Linked DNA regions of Homo sapiens. The protein of the gene in region 1 purifies or fractionates together with the protein of each later gene. This does not show direct contact. Each region holds a gene or a part of one and is shown on either strand. Other genes may lie near its edges.

Region 1 (7,062 bases):
AGCGGGGCGCCCTGCACCGACCGCCGCCTGCGGCCTTGGTGCCGGGAGCAACCGACTGTAAGGTTCGCAGGGCTCCGCCCGCCTCAGCCGGGCTCCACCCCACACAAGCCCCGCCCCAGAACCCCGCCCCCTTCCAGCCCGGCCAGCTTCCGTGCAGGCCCCCAGCCTGCTCTAGCCCCGCGCTGCACGCTCTCGAGGCCCTGCCGTGTCCCGCCCTCGGGCTCCAAGGCCTGAACTAACAACTGAGGCGGGAGAACCAGCACGAAGGTTACTCCAAGTCCCCGACCCCTGTCCCTCTCAAACTGGGCTCAAGGTCAACCTGGCCTCTCTATATGCTCTGGAGGTCCCGTCAGAGGGTTTTTGAGGAAGAAACCCCGCACATCAGTCGCATCCTCTTCCCCCATCTCCTTGGCCCTGCCCCCTTTCCTGGACTCCTGGCCCTAGAGACGCAGGTTCTAGCCTGTGGAGTGCCCTGCGTTCTCAGAAAAATGTCCTCTCTTGCTGGTCCCCCGTCACCGTCGGTAGTGGGTGCGGTCATTCCTGGGGGCTACGTGAGCCGGGAAATGGTGACCACTTTACCAGAATGGCTCTGGCCTCCTCGGATCCCGCACCACCTGCGGAGGTAGGCACCCTCGCGTGTTACTGCTAAGAAAACTGAGGCCCGAGCGCACAGCTGGAGCCCAGACTGCAGCTCGGCATTCGTCCTGCACGCGGCGGCAGCCAAGCCTGGGAGAACTTTGTCCGCGGTAGCCCAGAGAGCTGTGCAGTGGGGGTCCATAGTGATCCCCCGCCCCTCTCCAGGCCGAGAGAGCCTGATTCATTGTGCAAGACTGAGTCTTATCCCTCTCAAGGGCATAGGGGAGTGGGAAAGTGTCTGAGCCTCTAGGAAGCTCAGAAATGATGCCTCGTCCTACTGCTGGAGAAATTGCTGTCCAGTGGCGGGGATCCGGTGGTTCCAGGTCCTCAACGCCCGGAGCCCGACCTTCCCCAGGGTCCAGCGCTCTTTCCTCAACGGCAGAAATGAGGCCTTGCCGGGAGGGAGTCTTCCAAGGGGGGTTCCCGAATCGGTGCTGCAGTGGGGGTTTTGAAGGGTGAGGAAGAAGGAGAGGAGGATTTCCGAGCCTTGGGACGGACACCTGAAGCGCCGCCCAGGGGCTTGGTCTAAATCGGGGGATGAGAGTCAAAAGGCCCAACCCCTCCATGCTCGCGGCTTCCTCCTTCTCCAGATGTGTACCTCCCTACGAGCACCGGCCCGGAATGCAGTGTGCTGTTACAACTCCCCCGCCGTCATACTACCCATATCCGAACCTTAGGTAAGTCTAACGCGCACACACTCATTTGCACACGCACCCTGAAGGCTTGGTGAGGCGGGGCTGGGGGAGGATGTCTGGTAGACGGGATGAGAACGCTCCGCGGTGCACTGACAGGCACATACCACGAGGGGGAGCTAGTGGCATGGAGCAGTCAAAGGTGGTAAGGACAGAGGACCTTAAGAGAGGGCTAGGAGGCCGGTATTGAAGGGTTACAGGTTGGCAGTGGGCTTACAGCCAAAGGCGTTGGTTCAGAGCTTGAAGTAATGAGTAAGAAGTCGATGTTAAGGAGGAAATATTGGGTATCAGCAACTTAACAGTAGAACCTAAGGTCAGGAGGTCAGTATTGGAACCCAAGGTCAGTGCTATAGACAAAGTGTAGGGATAAGGTTAGCATTGCAAACTGGAGTCAGATATTCACTTTGACATATGAGGATCCAAAACGGCTGACCCATCTCTTCCTGTAGATGGGACACAAGTCACTTCAAGAAGTCTGGTGGTCCCCAGAGAAACAACTATGTTATCCATCCTGAGTTTGTGTCTGAGACCTATCCCGACTATCGTTGCTGGTAGAGCCTGGGCTTGCTGTGCCAAGGGGGCAGAGCAATAAATAAACTCTTCAACCCCAAAGCCTGCCTCCTGTGTCCTTACCCAGCAGGATCTGGAAGTGAAGGGCCAGTCACTCAGGCCTCTATCAAACCCCTTCAACTGAGATGCAATTTTTCTCAAAGTCACCCTTCCCTGGGCCCTTCCAACCCCATCATCTCAGTACATCCCTGAGTGCCCTCCTGACACAGAACAGTAGCCTTATATCCAGCTGCTATCCTCCTCCCCTGAATCCCAGAGCCCAAACGGATGGGTCCACCCTGCAATGCAGGCAGGAGCCATCTACTTTCCACCCCACGAAGACCCTCCAGCTAACATTTCTTCAGTATGCTCCCAAACTTAGATGCCCTCCCACTCATCAGAGGACCCAGAATCCTTCCTTCCACAGTCAAAGACCTATCCCTACACCCAAAGCTCTTGATCTCTGCTTCCAGGAGTCCCCATCACAGCCTCCCAAAAGCCTCTCTGTGCTCAGACACCCTTGCTGCACAAGGTGTGTCCCCCATTCCAAGTCCAACTGGTCAAAACATAATTTTGGAGGGTCTCATGACAAAGAAATTTCAAGTTGCAAAACAAAGCCCTGTTTCTCTGCCCCTCAGGGAGCGAGAAGGGGCCATTCTAAAATCTCTGTGATCTTCAGTATTTTTATTTCTGCATCAAATAGATATGAAACCAGCTGGGTGCAGAGGCTCACACCTGTAATCTCACCACTTTGGGAGGCAGAGGCAGGAGGATCACTTGAGCCCAGGAATTCGATACCAGCTGGGGCAACATAAAGAGACCCCTTCTCTACAAAAAAATTTAAAAATTAGCAGGGTATGGTGGCACACACATGTGGTCCAAGTTACTCAGGAGCCTGAGGCGGGAGGGGATAGCTTGAACCAAGGACATTGAGGCTGCAGTGAGCTATGTTAACGCCACTGCACTCCAGCCTGGGCGACAGAGCGAGACCCTCTCTCAAAAAAATAAAGACCGGACGCGGTGGCCCACACTTGTAATCCCAGCACTTTGGGAGGCCGAGGCAGGTAGATCACCTGAGGTCAGGAGTTTGAGACCAGCCTGACCAACATGGTGAAACTCTGTCTCTACTAAAAATACAAAATTAGCCAGGCGCGGTGGTGCGTGCCTGTAATCCCAGCTACTTGGGAGGCTGAGGCAGGAGAATTGCTTGAACCCGGGAGGCGGAGTTTGCAGTGAGCTGAGATCGTGCCATTGTACTCCAGCCTGGGCAACAAGAACGAAACTCAAAAATAAATAAATATAAAAATAAAATAAAATAAAAAAGAAATGAAACCTCAGAGTCTTGCCCAGCCCCCGGGGAGAGGGGCATGGCGGGGCACACCCACTTTCCCGCAGCTTGGGCATTTCTAACTAAAGGCTGTAACTTAGGAGGAGGGGCTGGACCCTATAAATAACTAGTCTGGGGGTAGCGGTCTGGGAGGCGGGTGACGTTGCAAAACACCGAGCAGAAACCGGTCTTCTCAGTCCCTGACCTCGGACACCGCTGGTTTGGTCCGGTGGGAACCGACAGCTTGGACTCGCGGCGGGTTGGAACTACAGCTCCCTCCGTGGGGCCCTCGATTGGAAGCACCTGCATTGGGAGCTGAGATACTCGCGGAATTCCGCCACCACTTTTCCGTATGGAAAGCTGAGGGCTTGTGAGAGCGTTATACCGATATGGCCTCCACCTGTCCAAACCGGGAAGGAAGGAATTCCAATGGCCAGCTCTGCTCCTTTACCCTGCAGCTCTCTCCCTCTCATCCTCATTCCAAACCTAGCCTAGAGGTGCAAGAACCCCAACCTTCCGCAGCTGCTCCTTTCTGCAGAACTACATGTCCCAGCAGGCCTGGGGCCGAGCCCCGCCCGCTTGCGGGTTAGCAGTGGCCCAGGAGGGGCGGGCCCGCCGGCGGGAGTCGGAGCCGCGGGGCGCAGGACTGAGCAAGCCTGAAATGCCAGGGGCAGAGCACAGAGCGGTGGGAGGAAGGTGGGGCTGAGGGGCGGGGCCACAGATCCGCCTGATAACCTGGGAGGAGGGGTCGAACGTCAAGGGCAGGGCTGGACTCTGAGGCCCGAGACGAGACTGGATGACTGGGGCGTGGCCGAGGAACCCCAGGGCGGGACCCGAGGAGGGGCTGTGCCCTGCCAGACAGAGCCCCGCGCGGCGCGGCGGCAGCTTCACTCTGGTTCAAGCGCAGGGGATCGGCGGGAAGCTCTTTCACCCCCGCTTCTGCCGGGCTGTAACTGCAATGGGTGAGCCCAGCGGGAGGGCTGTGGGGGGCGGGGGGCTGCTGAAGGAGCACGATTCCTGAACTTTCGCTCCCACCGATGAATGGGTGGAGCGAGCCTGAACACCTGGGCCCATCCCACGGCCGCGATTCCCGCGGGGCGACAGGTCCCTTGACCTCGGTCGGCCCCTTCGGACAGTATAGCCTTCAGGGCGGGGTAGGGAGGGCGGCTGTGGAGTATTCCAGGCTATGTAGGCAGTCACTCGATCCCCGCGGATACCGTCGCCTGGCAGGAGAGGGAGATGGGCCGGATCGAGTTGCCTTTGACATTTCCATCCCCCCGGGAACTGTGTCCAACTAACGATTCTACTTGGAATGGCCTCCCCTCAGTTGAGTCGGGCGGGGCCCTCCCCCTCAGACCAGACTAGCTGTGGCAGCCAAGGCTGAGGTTGAGTGTCCGGTGGGGAGAGGCTCAGCAGGGGCAGAGCCCAGACTCCACCTGGCGGAGGCGGCAGATTACAGAGGTCTCTGGCACCACTGTTAACACCGGAACCACAGACTTCCTCCCCCAAAGCCCCGGTACCAGATGCCATTAAAATTGCCCTCTTTGCTGCCCTCGTGGTCTTCGTGGTCCGCGTGGAGCAAGCAGCAGCACCAGCCCTTGGAAAGACAGGCCTCACCATGCCATGTCCATCTGATGGAAGCTGGTCCCACCAGCTCAGCCCCAGGGCTCCTTTCTGCTACTGCATTCAGGCAGCCAGGTCAGATCATTATCTCCCATCTCCTAAAACTTACACTGTGGAGAGCTGGGCTGGGATTTTAGATCCAGGCAGCCTTGATACCTGGCTAACTTCAGACAAGTTCCTTTTTCTGTTTGGGCCACGTTTCCTCACCTGTAAAATGGACACTGCAGCTATGTCTGCTGTTCCACATTGTTGATAGAACTGGATGCTGTGGTGACATTTGGGACACTATCATGGTGCCTGGGGTGGGTGGGTGCCCAGGCCTGTGGGCTTCTGTCTTTCATCAAAGAACTTCAGATCCCAGAAAATTAAGATTCTCAAAACATAACTGTCGGAAAGGGCTTTTGAATCCACCTTGGTGGCCTCTTCCTGCCTCCAGGGCTCATGAGATAGGCTGACTTCATATGAAAGTTTTGAGGATGAGGAAGTCTCTCTCCTCTTCAGATACTGACCCTCTCTCTCCTTATTTCCTTGGTGCCCAGAATAGGGCTTTGGTTATCTTGAATGAATGAATATAAACTCACAGGTGTGATCTGAGCCACCTAAAGCCTTCTTTGGGTTCTGCTCAGCTTGAGGGCATCACCTAAAGGCCACTGGCTGCATTTTCCAGGAGGTGTTTTCTAAGCTGTATCTATATAGGAATGGGGAGGAAAGCTAAGTCATTGTAGACTGAGAGAAAGGGAATAAGAGTCTGTTCCAGACCAGCTAGGGCTGACAAGCTTAGGCAGCTGGGGGCAGAGGGCACTGAGAATGAGGCCCTGAGCTAGCACCGTGTGGGAAGTGCCTATGGGAGGAGCTGTGTATTGACATTTAGGATCAAATTCTGCTCCACACCTTGCATTCTTGCATGGGGGAGGTGAAAAACCTGAGTATTTCCGGCATCTCCTTGGAAGTCCCTGGGGACTTAGAGACAGACACTGGCATCTGGGAGGAGGCTAATTACTGTTTGCTAGTCTCCTTCTCTTCTTCCCCCGAGCTGGAGCAGTTGGGCAACCAACTGGCTGGCTGTGTGTATGCCCGTGTGTGCACCTGGGTGGTGCTATTTCTTTGTTGGACTCTGCTCTGAAGCCTGGGACAGGAACGGTCAGTGGCCTTGAGTGGCAGAGTAGGACACACCTCTTCCCCTGAGCCTGTGTTTCCCTGTAGTCATATCTGTATTTTTTTTTTTTTTTTGAGATAGGGTCTCACTTTGTCACCTAGGCTGGAGTGCAGTGGCACAATCTTGGCTCACTGCAGCCTTGACCTCCTGGGCTCAAGCGACCCTCCCACCTCAGCCCCCCAAGTAGCTGGGACTACAGGTGCACACCACCATGCCTGGCTAATTTTTTTTTTTTTTTGTATTTTTGGTAGAGACAGGGTTTCAACATGTTGCCCAGGCTGGTCTCAAACTCCTGAGCTCAAGAGATCTGCCCTCCTTGGCCTCCCAAAGTGCTAGGATTACAGGCATGAGCACCGTGCATGGCCTCATATCTGGATATTTAGCATATAGTGTGTCAGAGTTTATGTGTGTTAGTGGTAGTGGTGGGTGTCTGATCCCTGGAGAGCAGGTAGGTGGAGGAGGTGCGCTGGGCCAAGCTAGGTGGGTGAAATCTCCTGAAGCAGGTGGCCTAAAGGATTTAGGTTGGGGAAGGAACGAGCTTGGTAATCACAAGATAGGCTTGGCTGGAAATGGAATCAGAATGGTAGCTGAGAACACATCATGCCTGGAGCCTCCAGTGCAAAGCAAACACTTTTAAATTTCATCATGGAAGCAATGAGCAGCTCTCGAAGCTAGGGATAGATATGGTTTGATAAGTGCTTTAGAAAGATCACTATGGTTGCCGTGATCAGAAGGCACTGGTGAGAAAGAAGTTAGAGTCAGAGAGGCCTGTTGGGGGAAGCGTTTGGTAATACAGGGGAGAAGTGACAGTGCCCAAACTATGACAGAAACAGGACAGTGGGTGAAACAGAGCGAGGAAGTAGCTGGCCCACAGATGTGGTGCCAGGAGCAAAGCAGGAAGGCAGGCATGGAAATGGATTTGGTGATGGATGATGGCTGAGAGCAGGGTGAGTTTGAGGGCAAAGAGAAGCAGATGTGAGAAACAACTGGCCCCCCATGCCAGGCTCCTGCCCCAGGCCCTAATGTCTGAACCCAACTCTACCTCCCTCCAAACCAGGCCCTGGGACTAAGTCTGGCTT
Region 2 (7,026 bases), on another chromosome or scaffold:
AAGGAGAGACGGAACCAGCTACCATGGGCTTGTCGGACACCTTCCTGCCGAAGATCCCTAGGGAAGAATTAAGAATTTGTAGGTGGAAAAAACTGTTAAGTTTCAAAGGGAGACATTTACTGATTTGAAAGGCCCAGTAGTGTTATCACATTTATTCCATCCACATAAACATTTTATGACACCAGCTCCACAGAGCAGGCAAAGCTGAAGAACATCCCCCGCCCCAGGAGCCCTTCTGTGTCTTCCTTCCCACGGCCCCCAGAAGGGACCTCCAGGCTTACACCCTCCAGAATCTAAGCCAAGATGGGAAGGCCTTTGAAATTGAATCCCAAAAAATGAACAGAAAGGCTAGATTGATCACCTGTAACATAAGTCTTAAAATATGGCTTATAAATACAGTACTAATGAGAATAGGGTATCCCCTGAATCCAATAAAGAAATCAGAGTGTGTGTGTCTAAATCCTTTTTTTAAAGTTGCTATGCAGCCAAGTGCAGTGGCACATGCTTGTAATCAAAGCACTTTGGGAGGCCAGGCCAGGAGAATTGCTTGAAGCCAGGAGTTCAAAACCAGCCTGGTCAACATAACAAGACCCCATCTCTGCAAAAGAAAAATCAAAAAATTAGCTGGGCATGGTGGCGAGCACCTGTATTCCCAGCTACTCAGAAGGCTGAGGCAGGAGAATCACTTGAGCCCAGGAGTTCAAGGTTGCAGTGAGCTATGAACACGGCACTGCCACCACACTCAGCCTGGGCAACAGAGCAAGACCCTGTCTCAAAAAAATAATAAAAAATAAAGGTACTATGTTTCCTTAGGATCTAGGATATATCTAAATAAAGCTGTTACCTGATCAACTGTATTACAGTCAGATAAAAATAAGGCGATATGAAAACCAAGTGTAATGGTCCACCTGGCTAGAACAGAAGCCACTCTTCAGCAGTCCAGATCCAGATCTAGTTTTGTCTGGTTTGACCTGCAGTGTTCTTCTAGAATGCGAATCTCTAAACTGAAAGACTTCATAAAAAATATGGATTTCTGACTTTTCTGGACAGATGAGAACTGGCAAATGCTGGGACAGTGCTTGTGTGTGACAGTAACCAGCCCATTAACTGGGATACATGCTCCAGTTGTGGGCAACCCCCACCTAGCCCACTTCCCTCACTTCTGTCGCCTGCCTGGCTGCTGACGGTATTGAGTTTAGAGGAACAGACATCAAAGATACAAAATTCATCTGAGTTTATCTGAAATAGTCCAGGGTACAGGTACCTAAAAATTGTCCCAAATATCTGACAGTACATAAAAGTAAGGTATCAGGCTACCAGAGTTTGATGAAAGTAGCCCCACTAAAAACATCTCACGTCCTTTATTCTAATTCTGACCCACCAAAAAGCCTTCTAAGTCAATGACACAATGTCTGGAGTGCCTCTGTATGTTATGAAAGATTGCTCTAGACATCCTACCCCTGTTCTTTAGTCAGATGTGTTTTCCAGGGTAACCCAAGAATGACATTTTAGCTTGTCAGTATCTTGGAAGTGATTAGTAAGAGCTCAGTCCTAAAGACTGGTTTGTTGTGAGTAAACAAATAAAGCTGGATTTCTGAAACAGCAAAGCTGAGACTCCAGACCAGTAATGCTCAACCTTCTTTCTGTTCGAGCATGCCTGGTAGTAACAGTGGCTCACATGGAAGTAAAGGAGTTTGTTTTTGTGAGGGGGTAGAGAGGAAGGTCACTTAAGACCTATTCTAAGCTGGTTAAAAAAAAAAAGAAAGAAACCGATTCTGAGGCATCAACTGATATCCTCTGAGCTCAAGATACCAGATTGGTCAGTCTTACTTTACCTGAGTGGTAAGAATCGTGTTTTATATAGAATGGCTCCCAGCGTCCACTGAACCTCTCGGTCATACACCAGCTGGGCTGTCCGCAGGTTTGGGTAGTCATAGGGAAAGTGGAATCCTTCATGTAAGACTTGGTACATCCAAGCCGATTTAAAACACTGATATCTGTGTGACAAAAATAATTAAATTTTAAAAAAAGAGAAAAGAATTCTAATACTTTCCTTTGCAATAAGCCACTCCGTATTCCCACAAGTTATTAAAAGACCTACCTCCTCCCGCTTCACCTTCCTCACCTCTAAGTGGGTTATTTCTAAGTCAGCCTACTTATCTTGTGTTTACCACAAAGGCAATAATGATACTGTGGCTGTGTTTTTCTTTTTCTTTTTTTTAAGAGTCCCTATCTTCAGAGAGCATATTAAAATATCTACAAATGTAATTATAGGATGTTTGGGATTAGCTTCAAAACAACCCAGTTGAAGTAAGAGGGGGATTGTGGATGGGAAAACAGATAAAAACAAGATGGGCCAGGAGCTGATAAATGTTAGTAGGAAAGCAGGGTGACAGGTACACAGGAGTTGATTACACTATTCTAGTTTTGTTTATGTTAAAACAATTTTTGTTTTTTTTTGAGACAGAGTCTCACTCTGTCACCCACGCTGGAGTGCAGTGGCGCGATCTCAGCTCACTACAACCTCCACCTCCTGGGTTCAAGCAATTCTCCCTGCCTCAGCCTCCCGAGTAGCTGGGATTACAGGCACCTGCCACCAAACCCTGCTAATTTTTGTATTTTTAGTGGAGACAGGGTTTCGCCATGTTAGCCAGGCTGGTCTTGAACTCCTGAACTCAGGTGATCCACCCACCTCAGCCTCCCAAAGCACTAGGATTACAGGTGTGAGCCACCATGCCCGGCAATTTTAAACAATTTTTAACTAAAACATTTAAAAATGAAAGGACCAATGAACCATACTGGCAAAATGTTATTTGTTGAAGCTGTGTGATAGTTACATGAGGGTTTATGTTGCTATTCTCTCTACTTTTCTATATGTTTGATATTATCTATAATACAAAGTTAAAAAAAAAATCACTTTTGGCCGGGCCCGGTGGCTCATACCTGTAATCCTAGCACTCTGGGAGGGCGAGGCAGGCGGATCACTTGAGCTCAGGAGTTCAAGACCAGCCTGGCAACATTGCGAAACCCCGTCTCTACAAAAAAATACAAAAATTGGCCAGGCATGGTGGCACGTGCCTATAGTCCCAGCTACTTGGGGGGCTGAGGCAGGAGAATCGCTGGAACCCAGGAGGCGGAGGTTGCAGTGAGCTAAGATCATGCCACTGCACTCCAGCCTGGGCAACAAAGTGAGACTCTGTCTCAAAAAAAAAAAAAAATCACTTTTGTTGTCAAATCACTTGTTGAGAACTCTGTTTGGTAACCACTGATTTCTTCTGGCTTTGCTATAATAGGCTCACTATTTTGGCCCCTATCCCTGAGAAAATCAAGTCTGGAATAATCAAATGCTCCCTCAACATGAAATCTAATCTGCATTATTGCTCACTCTCCATTATAATCTGCCATCTAGATTTTAAGTCCACATCTAAGGAGGAAAGGGAAGTAACTTACTTGAGTCGATGCTCATCTGCATGTGATGAAAAGAGGCCATTCTTGAATCTCTGAGTTAGTACCGACCAAGCCATGCCACAGTAATCCTGGATCAACCACAGAGAAATAGTGCAACATGAATTTGGAGGCAAACTCTCTACCTTCCCCACAGTCACAGCTGTTCCATTTCTAAAGTTACTTGTGGGCTACCAGCTGACAAAGGAAAACAGAAATGGTGTGTTCATTCACTAAACACTGCGTCATACCCCTGTTTATTCCCGTCATCCCATGTCTAGCACCAAGCCAGCTTGATGTGGCTTCTGAGCCTCTTAGGCTTCAGAGGGGCTGAGGTTAGGACTAACAAATAGCAACGTCAAAAGACAAAGATAGTTTCATTCTACTCCACATAGGACTGACATGAGCAGGGAGAGCAGATGGAAGAGGATGGTTAGAAACCTGTCATTGGCCTCCCTCGGTGTTGTAATTCTCACCAAAATAATCATTCCTTTTGGTTTGTATGTCTGCTATGTGCCAGGTGCTGTTCTAGATGCCAGGGAATCATGCAGTAAATAAAACAGACAAAAATTCCTGTCCTCAGGAAGCTTACATTCTAGTGGTAGGAGACAGACAATAAACACACACACACACACACACACACACACACATACACACACACACACACACACGGTACGTTGGATAACATAAATGCTCAGGGAAAAATAAAGCAGGAAAGGGCAACAGGTAATATGGGGAGCGTTGTCATTTTGGATAGAGTGGTCCCAGAAGGTGGCTCTGGGAAGATAACGTTTGAGTCAAAGTTAAAAAGGTAAGGGAAAAAAATCGCTTTTACCTGGAAAAGATAATATGTTAAGCCCAATAACTTGAGCCTTTTGGTGTTCAAGGGAATAGAATTTGAAGAAGTTTTGAGATAAGAGAAAGAGTCAGGCCATGGATAGTTAGGGAGCTCTGGGCTCCAGAAAAACAGGGAGCGTGAAGGTCGTCCTGGAGGCTGGAGAGAAAGGAGCAAATACAAACCAGGTGTCCCACAGTATTTCTTAAGGACTGTCTTTTGGGAACAGAACAGTACAGATACTGCAGATATTATTTTGCTGGAAGCCTTACACTAAGAGAACCCTAGAGAATTGTAAGAAAGAAAGAGAAAGGTAGGCAGGGAAGAAGGAGGGAAGGGAGGGAGGGAGGGAAATATGAGGAGAGGCTGGGTACGGTGACTCACGCCTGTAATCTCAGCACTTTGGGGGGCCAAGGCGGGCAGATCACCTGAGGCCAGGAGTTCCAAACCAGCCTGGCCAACATGGCAAAACCCCATCTCTATTAAAAATAATAAAAATTAGCCAGGCATGGTGGTGGGCATCTGTAATCCCAGCTACTCGGGAGGCTGAGGCAGGAGAATCACTTGAACCCGGAAGGCAGAGGTTGCAGTGAGCTGAGATCATGCCAATGCACTCCAGCCTGGGCTACAGAGCGAGACCCCATCTCAAGAAAAAAAGAAATATGAGGACAGATTCTCCCATTCGTTTCTCTGATGAAAAAGATAGAGACACGCAACAATTCAAAGAGATGGCCCTAAATAAAGCAGAAAATGATAGAAAGCTGGCTAAACTTTCATCTGTCCAGGTACCAATGATTTAAACTTATATGATGCTTAAGTCCTATATATGCTCAGAGTGAATTTTTACTCCTCTATTTTAAATCTAAACAAACTTCCACCATCATTGCTTTTTACAACATCTAATATTCCCAGGGACCCCATACCACTCTGCCTCTTAATACCTCAACCCAAAAGAAAGATGGGCTTGCCCCTCTGGGTGATATCATCTCCAAAAGCACATTACAACAGAAAATAGCTAGCAAGAGGAAAAATACTGGAGGTGACATTTCTTGGGCATAAACATTAAACAAGACTATTGGAAAGTTGGAAGAAAAACCATTAGCCAACACAAAAATTTTATGCCTGGGTAATAATTTGGGTGGTATGACATCCATGGAAAATAAATTTAGTTAATTAGAAGGCAGTACAGCATAGCTAGATCCTTAAGTTCTCTGTCCACTTCCTCATCTGTAAAATGAGTGTTCAAAGGGCTCCTGCAAAGAACAAGTGAGATTCTGTATGCAAAGCCCTTTGCACAGCACCTGGCACAGAGTGAGGCATTCAATAAATGGCTGCTGCCAGCATAAGCCATGTTTATCATTAATAATTTACCTGAGCAGCCTTGGCAAATGTTGGCCCATGGTAGCGGCCACCAATGCGCAACACATCCTCTGTACAATAAAAAAACTCAGAGAAGCCGTAGAACTCGCTGTTGTTGAAGTCAATAGGCGATTGATATATGCCATTGAGTGAGGCCTGGCTGGTGTTGGAGCGAGCCAGCAGGGGGCTCAGCATTGCCCCACAAGACACCCAGTCTCCTCTTCCTCGGACATGTAAGACTTGGCTGTTCCTCTCCACCACATCTGTGAGTCCCACTGGCAGGCAGGGATCCAGAAATGGATTGTCGGGACTCAGACCTGTCTTCTGACCAAGCAATCTGCCACAATGACAAAAACAAACAAACAAACAAACACGTCATGCCTGTATTCAACCTAGTCTAAGAAACACAATGTGCATCAGAAATATCTTACTACTGGTTTTCATGATATCTCTAGAAACGAGGATGGAGTGCAATTTCATCACATAAACATTTAACTTCAGCAAGTTAAATTTAGAAAAAAAAGAGAGGAATATGGTGATCAATTCTGTTCGACATTTTAGTCAACATGTGTATTTCCTAGTCTGTAGTGAAATTGGAGATGTGAATCTGCTGTTCTCCATCTGGTCTTCATTCCCACGTACCTCCTAAAAGTGCAAGGACCTTATCGTGCGGAGTGTGGTTCTAATGTTTAAAAATACAACTGGTAGGGGGTGAGGTGGGAAGGACTGTGGGGAGAGATTCCTGAAGAGCAGACCACGGCAGTGGCCCATGTGCAATGGCTGGCAATGGTGATGGAGCCCATGCCTGCCTCTGAATGAGCAGTGCTGGAACAGAACAGGCACAGCACCAGCTCCAGGAAGCCACCTGCAGAGCCTGGAGCCTCTGAGTGGGGAGAAGACTGGAAAGCTTTGATTCCCACCATGGCCGTAACACAGGTCCAGTTATTTTGAGTTTATACTTGCCTAGCAACCATATTCTCATTCCTCAAAATGATGAGTATGAAGATCTGTCCAAGGACAGAAATTAAGTTGGGGTCCAAGTAACTTTGCCAATTGCAGTTAATTATTCATCAGTTCCTAAACAGACAGATGTTGAAGAGTGGACTTCTTAGAATGAGGATGCGCCCACAGGTGTAAAGACCGAGGGTGAGAATGGAATGAGGCAGTACAACAGAACACTTTACAACAACTGGAACCGACTATTTTAAGGATGTGACACCAACTGTAAGGAAAACTCAGAAAATTGTTATTGAGAAGAGACAATGATCATTTTGCCATCTCAGGAAATAGGTTAATAGACTGGCAGCTACACAAGATATGCCTTTTACTCATCAGTCACCTGATGTAGGTGACTTAGCTACTTGGCAAGAAAATACCAACGCATGGGA
Region 3 (6,832 bases), on another chromosome or scaffold:
TCTTTGTCTAAAAGTCTCCCCAACTGTAGAATGAGATGGTAGAACTGGATCAGCATTTCCCAAATTTCTGTCATTCAAGTATCACCACTGTTGCTTTATTCTTGTACTACAGGTACTATCATACACTTACTATTTATCTACTCTTTTTTAAAAGAATATAAAAAGGAAACCATACATTGCTTACTGTGAGTGGAAAGTCAGTGTCACTTTTAATAAAAGTTGCAGTAATGAAAAGGTCATCATGAAAATAAACACATAACTGACAAAATAAGAAATGTCTGTGTAATGCCTCCAATCCTCCCAAGCATAATTCTGGGAAATAATCTACTAGATTGTCAGAGGCTTTGTCTAAGATAAACAAAGCTGAACAGTAGTTAAAATTGTAAGGACAGAATTTAATCAGTCATAACTATTGCAATAGGGAAAACAATCTAGTATGAACTGAGCTCAATATCGATTTGTACGAAAAGTAATTGGGCATTTTGAAAAGAACATGAGGGAATAGGGAGAAGGACAAGCAGCAGTTTAACAGAATCAGGGAAGTGAAAAATGACAAAGGGTTGGTCAGTGTAAGTGACATTAGGCCAGCTGTGTCTGCTAGCTGCCAATTGCCAAAGTTAGGATGCCGTTCTCCCAAAGAGACTGGGAGACAGAAGCTCTATCCTCAGGTGTTGGATGAAACAAAAACACAGTAAATATTTTGGCAGCCTTGAGTTTTCTCAGGCAGGCACTTTAAGAGGGGGTAGTGGGGCCAGGGTCACCTTAGGTAGGGGCCCCCAACTCCTAGGCTGCGGACCAGTACTGGTCTGTGGCCTGTCAGGAACCAAGCAGTGGCATTAGATTCTCACAGGAGCTTGAAATCTGCTGTGAACTGTGCATGCGGGGGATCTAGGTTGCATGCTCCTTATAAGAATCTAACGCCTGATGATCTAAGGTGGAACAGTTTCATCCTCCATTTTTTTTTCTTTTTTGAGATAGAGTCTTTCTCTGTTGCCCAGGCTGGCATGCAGTAGCACAGTCTCAGCTCACTGCAACCTCTGCCTCCCGGGTTTAAGTGATTCTCCTATTTCAGCCTCCTGAGTAGCTGGGATTACAGGCACGTGCCACCACACCTGGCTAATTTTTGTATTTTTAGTAGAGACGGGGTTTCACCATGTTGGCCAGGCTGGTCTCAAACTCTTGAGCTCAAGTGATCTGCCCACTTCGACCTCCCAAAGTGCTGGGATTACAGGCCTGAGCCACCACACCTGGCCAAAAATATCTGATTTTACTAGACAATCCTATTGTTATTTATTTTTTATTTTTTGAGACAGAGTCTTGCTCTGTCACCCAGGCTGGAGTGCAGTGGTGTGATCTCAGCTCACTGCAGCCTCTGCCTCCCGGGTTCAAGCGATTCTTGTGCCTCAGCCTCCTGAGTAGCTGGGATTACAGGCGAGCACCACCATCCCTGGCTAATTTTTGTATTTTTAGTAGAGATGGAGTTTCACCAAGTTGGCCAGACTGGTCTTGAACTCGTGGCCTCAAGTGATCTGCCCACCTCGGCGTCCCAAAGTGCTGGGATTACAGGTGTGAGCCACCACGCCAGGCCTTCATCATAGAATTATTGCCCACCCCCACCACCCTGTCCGTGACAAAATCGTCTTCCATGAAACTGGTCTCTGGTGCCAAAAAGCCTGGGAACTGGTGATCTTAAGGATGTGACGTTGAATTATTAGAAACTGTGTTGCTGTCTGTTCAGTCTTTATAGGCCAAGACTGAAGCCTAGTTGAGAAGAGGGCTCATAGGAGCCTGGCTAAGTTCCATCAAGAAGAGAATCACTATCAGCTTCTATACCTTAGCCCCTGCCCGCACCCCCCCACCCCCAAAAAGCATCAATATTGTGACTATATACCAGGTGTTTCACAAAGTTATGAAGTAGTTATAATTAATATCCTCATTAAAAGGTTAAGAAAACTGAGGCTCAGAAAGGTTAAGTTGTCTGCCCAAGGTTCCACAGCCAGAAGTAGCAGTGCTGGGATTTGAACCTAGGTCTAAGTCTCACTGGTTCCAGAATTCACTGTCGTCCAAAGTGCATAGCTCCATTCTATGTTTCTAGGCTCTGTCTTTAAGCCATCCCTCTCCTGCACATGCCCATTTTACGAATGCCTATGGTCCCGAGTACTAAATCTGGACAAGTATGTGACCCTGGGCAGTGGATCTCGGCTCTGGCTGTACCACCTGGGGAGCTTGAAAAACACTGATGCCTGGGCCTCACCCCTAGAAGCTCTAAGGTAACAGGTGTGGAGTGCAACCCAGAGGGATTTTTAGAAGATTCCAGGTGATCTCTGTCAGGAGCCAGGTTTGAGACCCACTGCGCTAGGAGTCTTCACAGTTATCATCCCATTTGATGCTTATAAGAGCCCTGTGAGAAAGGCAGGCAAGTGGCAATCCCCATGTCCTGCTGACGAAGAAAAGTGTTGAGATGCTAAGGCTCAGACAGTAAGATCTGGATAGAAAACAAAGTTTCTGACCTCTAGCTCTGAGTTCTCTGCCTAAAGGTTCTGCTCTACAAGGCATAATTTAAAAAAAAAAAAAGCAACATCTCCAAGAAGAGCAGCTTAATTTCTCTTGTACAGTACAAGTCACTTCTCACCCCCATGGAACACATGGAGGAGAGGTAGTACCTGCTTCAGCCACAGTACCCAAAACAAGGCCAGGGCATCCCAGGGAGGTGAGCAGTGACCCCCCTTTCTGACAAACTGTTCCCCTGGCAGAAGCCAAGGGAGGGCTAGGGGACAGGGGCCTGCAATTCTGTGATAGCGTTGGGGCCTGCTTTCCACGCCCACTTTTCTGCAACGGTTTGTGATCTGGACTCCCTGAGCACCCGTTGGGAGCTGGGGGCAGCCTAGGGAAGTCGGGACCTACTCCTGTACCCTTCCAAGGCAAGCATCCTGGGCCACCTAGCCGTTTCAGGGTCCAGGCCATGGGACCCCCTGTGCATAACACTGGGCCCAACAGCCTGGTCGGGCCCTGATGTTTGCTCACTGATGATGTGCAGAGGAGAGGGGGCAGTTTCCCACTTCTGGGAGAAGAGAGGGCACTGTCGGCCCTTGGCAGACTTGGGGGGCGTCACTGCCCATATGTGGGGGACGTCACTGCTCACCTTGAGGGACTTAAGGGTTCCCAGTGGTGGGCATTCGAGAGGATACTGTCCACATCTGGGGCCAGCAAAGGACCCCTGTACCTCAACTGGAAGGCCAGAGGTTCACCTCAGCCTTGCAGTCATGAGGCAGCAGAGGGCCCCTACCCACTCCAACCCCCTAAAAAATGCAACAATCCCAGGCACACCTTAGGCCGCAGCCTGGCTGTGACCGAACAGACGGCGGCCACACCCCCGGGGAGAGGCCGGGTGGGGACCGCAGGGCGCAGCTCTCCCAGTCCCACCCTTCGGCGCAGGGCTCCGGCCAACACAGCCCTCCAGGCCGCCTACTCTCCAGCCAGCCGGCTCCACGGACCCACGGAAGGGCAAGGGGGCGGCCTCGGGGCGGCGGGACAGTTGTCGGAGGGCGCCCTCCAGGCCCAAGCCGCCTTCTCCGGCCCCCGCCATGGCCCGGGGCGGCAGTCAGAGCTGGAGCTCCGGGGAATCAGACGGGCAGCCAAAGGAGCAGACGCCCGAGAAGCCCAGGTGAGCGGCTGGGCCGCGCCGGACGGGCGTCGGGGGTCTGGGCCGCGAACCCGCCGCGGGGCCGCCGGAACCTCCGCGAAGGTTCTAGGCCTTTGTGGCGTCACCGTCTCCTTGCGGAAGCTTCCGCCGGCGCCGAATAAAACCCGCCGCGGAGGAGCCGGTGGCTCTAGTGCGGTGGAGCCAGGCGTGGAAGTCGGTCCGGCGCGGGGCGGGGGGCGGGCGGGAGCTACAAGCGGCGGCGGCGGCGGCGACCGTGACCGTGACGCGCGAGCGGGCGGCGGGGGCGCGGGCCAGGGGCGCGGGCCAGGGTGCCGGCAGGGGCGTCCGGGGCGCTCTGACCGGCCTCGCCCGCCCCCCCCGCAGACACAAGATGGTGAAGGAGACCCAGTACTATGACATCCTGGGCGTGAAGCCCAGCGCGTCCCCGGAGGAGATCAAGAAGGCCTATCGGAAGCTGGCGCTCAAGTACCACCCGGACAAGAACCCGGATGAGGGCGAGAAGGTGCGGGGCGGCGCGGGGCACGGGCCGGGCTCCCGAGGGGCCAAGGGTTATTAAGCCAGGAGCATTGAAGGCGACGGGAAACCTGAGCCGCGTTTGTTGGGGAGGCTGTCGCCAGGCGCCTCGGGGCCAGGCCGGGCAGAGGTGGCGGGAGACCCTGGGCGCCGTGCGGCGCGGTCGGTGGAGGGCGCTTCGCCCGCGGAGGAGGCATGTGGTGCGGCACTTGGGTCCCTCGCGAGTCCCTGCCGAGCCCATTCATTCCTCCATTCGCTCCACAAGTGTTTGGGTAGCCCCTGCCGTGCGCGCCGGACTAGTTCTCATAGGGTGTGTTGGTTCCCTGTGGGAGAGGCGGCCTGGGAATCGGGAAACTGAGGCACACACAAACAGTTGTTTACTTGCTGGGAACGACTGGCTCATATTCTCTGTTGATGCATAAACCCTAGGGATGAGTGTCTTTAATCTGAGCTGGTACCTTGGACAAACGCCGTGCCTCTCTTGAGAATGACTAGCTGGATTTGTTCTGTGCACCTACTGCCTACCTGATAAAAGCGTCAGATAGTGAATAATCCCATTTTCTTTATTAAACAGGGACACGGACATCTGCAACCTGACATCAGCTTGTACTCATATTCTGGGTTTTCGGTGACAAGTGACACACAGTTGATCATAAGTACCAATCATAGACTGAAAATGCTCTGCATTTTAGAGACAGAAGTTAAAAGCTTTTCCATCCTGTTTACAGAAAGTTTGCTTTTTATCTCTAAAGAGGCTCATGACCCACCTGAATAGGTGAATTGAAGGATGAGGCATTGCAAGGAAAGGCTGCTAACCCTCCCGTTCCTCCTTTCACTTCTTGCCATTTTCTTACAAAACTTTGGTTGTTCCGCATGGGTCTTGAGAGGTGGGGCCGTTATAGTAGCTGATAGCAGTGTCACTTGGGCCACGTTTGAAACCACACCAATCACCCATGTAGCATTTAAGACCTGTGGAAACGACGCTGGAATCAAAATACCTGTCTGTGTTAGTTGTTCCAAGCTGGAGAAAGCTACTTCAGGACGGTTGGCTGAATGGCAACAGTGATGGAATATTTATATTTAGCCACATGTGCTGAATGTGGCTGTCACAAGTTTAAAATGCTTTCCTGTAAGACCATTTGTCTGTTACTCACTTGCGTTCTTTCTCATCTATATTTAGATGGCTTACTGTAGCTTTTAAAGGCACTGGCGTTTTACATGGTGCTGGTGATTCATCCACCTGCTCCCTACATTCATTGTGGTCCGCTTCTGACAGTCTCCTTTAAGGAGAGCTTGTAGGCTTCTAATTTCACATTTCAGCAAGCTGGCTAAAGACATGTGGGAAAGCCTGACCCTGGATTCAGGTCAAATCTCAGCACTCACAAGAGTAAGTTCATGCCTCTGTGTATACAGTTAGAGCTGAATATGCTTTTGTTCTGAAGCTTTTATTTTTAAAAAATTAGACTTGACCTGTACTACATATGTGTAGGTTTCACCCTGTCTATACCTGTCTGGGCAGGTTGTTTGGTTTGTTTTAAACTAATATTTATTCATAGCCAGGCACTGAGTTAGTGTCACATAAATGAGGCCCTTGGCAGTGAGGTCTGGCAGGCCCATCAGCTTGGAGGGAAGGGTTCTGTGATGTGCCCATTGCCAGGAATACTTTCCTTCCTCTACCTTCATGGAAGGGGATAAAACTCTTTAGTTCTCAGCTAAAACATCTTCCAGGAGGCTGCCTCTGCCTCATAGACTGAACCACAGGCCCAACGTGCATCCTACTTTAATGGTGATTACTTGTTTGATTAACTGTATTCCTTTAATGGTGATTACTTGTTTGATAACTGTATTACCTGCCATAATGTAAGCAGGGCAGTGACTGTGCCCCCATGGCCACTTATGGGGTGAGTATCTAGCTGTGCAGGGTAGGTGCTAAAATGTTTGTTAGCTGGCTGAGTAAATGCACTTTAAAAAATTGTGTGTAGGAGGAGAGGGCCCTATAAAGGCACAAATTGGAAGGGAAATTGCAGTGAAAGGGATATTGGGAGGAGAGTGGCAATTTAGATCGGAAATCAAAGAGGATGAGGAGACTGGGGACACAATTTATAGAAACGGCTGTAGAGTTCCCCAGAGAGAGCTCATTCATTCATTCATTCATTCATTCAACAAATACCTCCTCTTCTGGTCCCCACTGTGTGCTGGGTGCACTGTGCAGGCCTTTTGTGAGTGTGTATGTGAGTGTGTGTGTGAGTGTGTATGTGAGTGTGTGAGTGTGTGAGTGTGTGTGTGAGTGTGTATGTGAGTGTGTATGTGTGTGTAGTTCTTTTCCACTTTATCACAGGTAGAACCTTTAAATTTTTTTTTCCTCCTAAGTTCGTCACTGTATTATTAACGTCTCTTCAAAAATAGACTACACCAGTTCTTTACCCCTTGCTGGGAAAACTGAGAAGGCCGTTGAAATGTTGGTCTTTGTTTTTTGCCCTGTTGTCCCCTGTTGCTAAGCATTGGGGCACCTTGTGTTTTTTGGGCACTCTGTATGGAGTCTGTACTTCTCTGCGGGTGTTTTTTTTTTGTTTTTTGTTTTTTTTGCAAGATGCATGGGTGGTAGGTAGTGGGTCACCAAGATAGTCCCTTTTAGGGGCAATGATGTGGGGTATA

Evidence for each region. The genes of interacting proteins can lie anywhere in the genome.
Region 2: the proteins of MYORG (region 1) and ENTPD7 purify together in Homo sapiens (affinity purification with mass spectrometry; 2 studies listed by BioGRID and IntAct, with this or other methods). This does not show direct contact.
Region 3: the proteins of MYORG (region 1) and DNAJA4 purify together in Homo sapiens (affinity purification with mass spectrometry; 2 studies listed by BioGRID and IntAct, with this or other methods). This does not show direct contact.

The regions. Positions count from the first base shown.
Region 1 is NC_000009.12:34,373,897-34,380,958, reverse strand, and holds the start of MYORG (myogenesis-regulating glycosidase), read left to right. Parts: upstream 1-4,060; 5' UTR 4,061-4,166; exon of another isoform or gene 4,167-4,902; intron 4,903-7,062. Other genes in the region: SPMIP6 (sperm microtubule inner protein 6), read left to right, coding at 1-62, 1,227-1,313, 1,778-1,883.
Region 2 is NC_000010.11:99,697,483-99,704,508, reverse strand, and holds part of ENTPD7 (ectonucleoside triphosphate diphosphohydrolase 7), read right to left. Parts: intron 5,976-7,026; coding exon 5,651-5,975; intron 3,537-5,650; coding exon 3,451-3,536; intron 1,998-3,450; coding exon 1,836-1,997; intron 58-1,835; coding exon 1-57. UniProt on the Homo sapiens protein: Catalyzes the hydrolysis of nucleoside triphosphates and diphosphates in a calcium- or magnesium-dependent manner. Preferentially hydrolyzes nucleoside 5'-triphosphates, with substrate preference for UTP > GTP > CTP.
Region 3 is NC_000015.10:78,260,730-78,267,561, forward strand, and holds the start of DNAJA4 (dnaJ homolog subfamily A member 4), read left to right. Parts: upstream 1-3,832; 5' UTR 3,833-4,027; coding exon of another isoform or gene 4,028-4,034; coding exon 4,035-4,166; intron 4,167-4,751; coding exon of another isoform or gene 4,752-4,805; exon of another isoform or gene 4,806-4,908; intron 4,909-5,488; exon of another isoform or gene 5,489-5,513; coding exon of another isoform or gene 5,514-5,564; exon of another isoform or gene 5,565-6,832.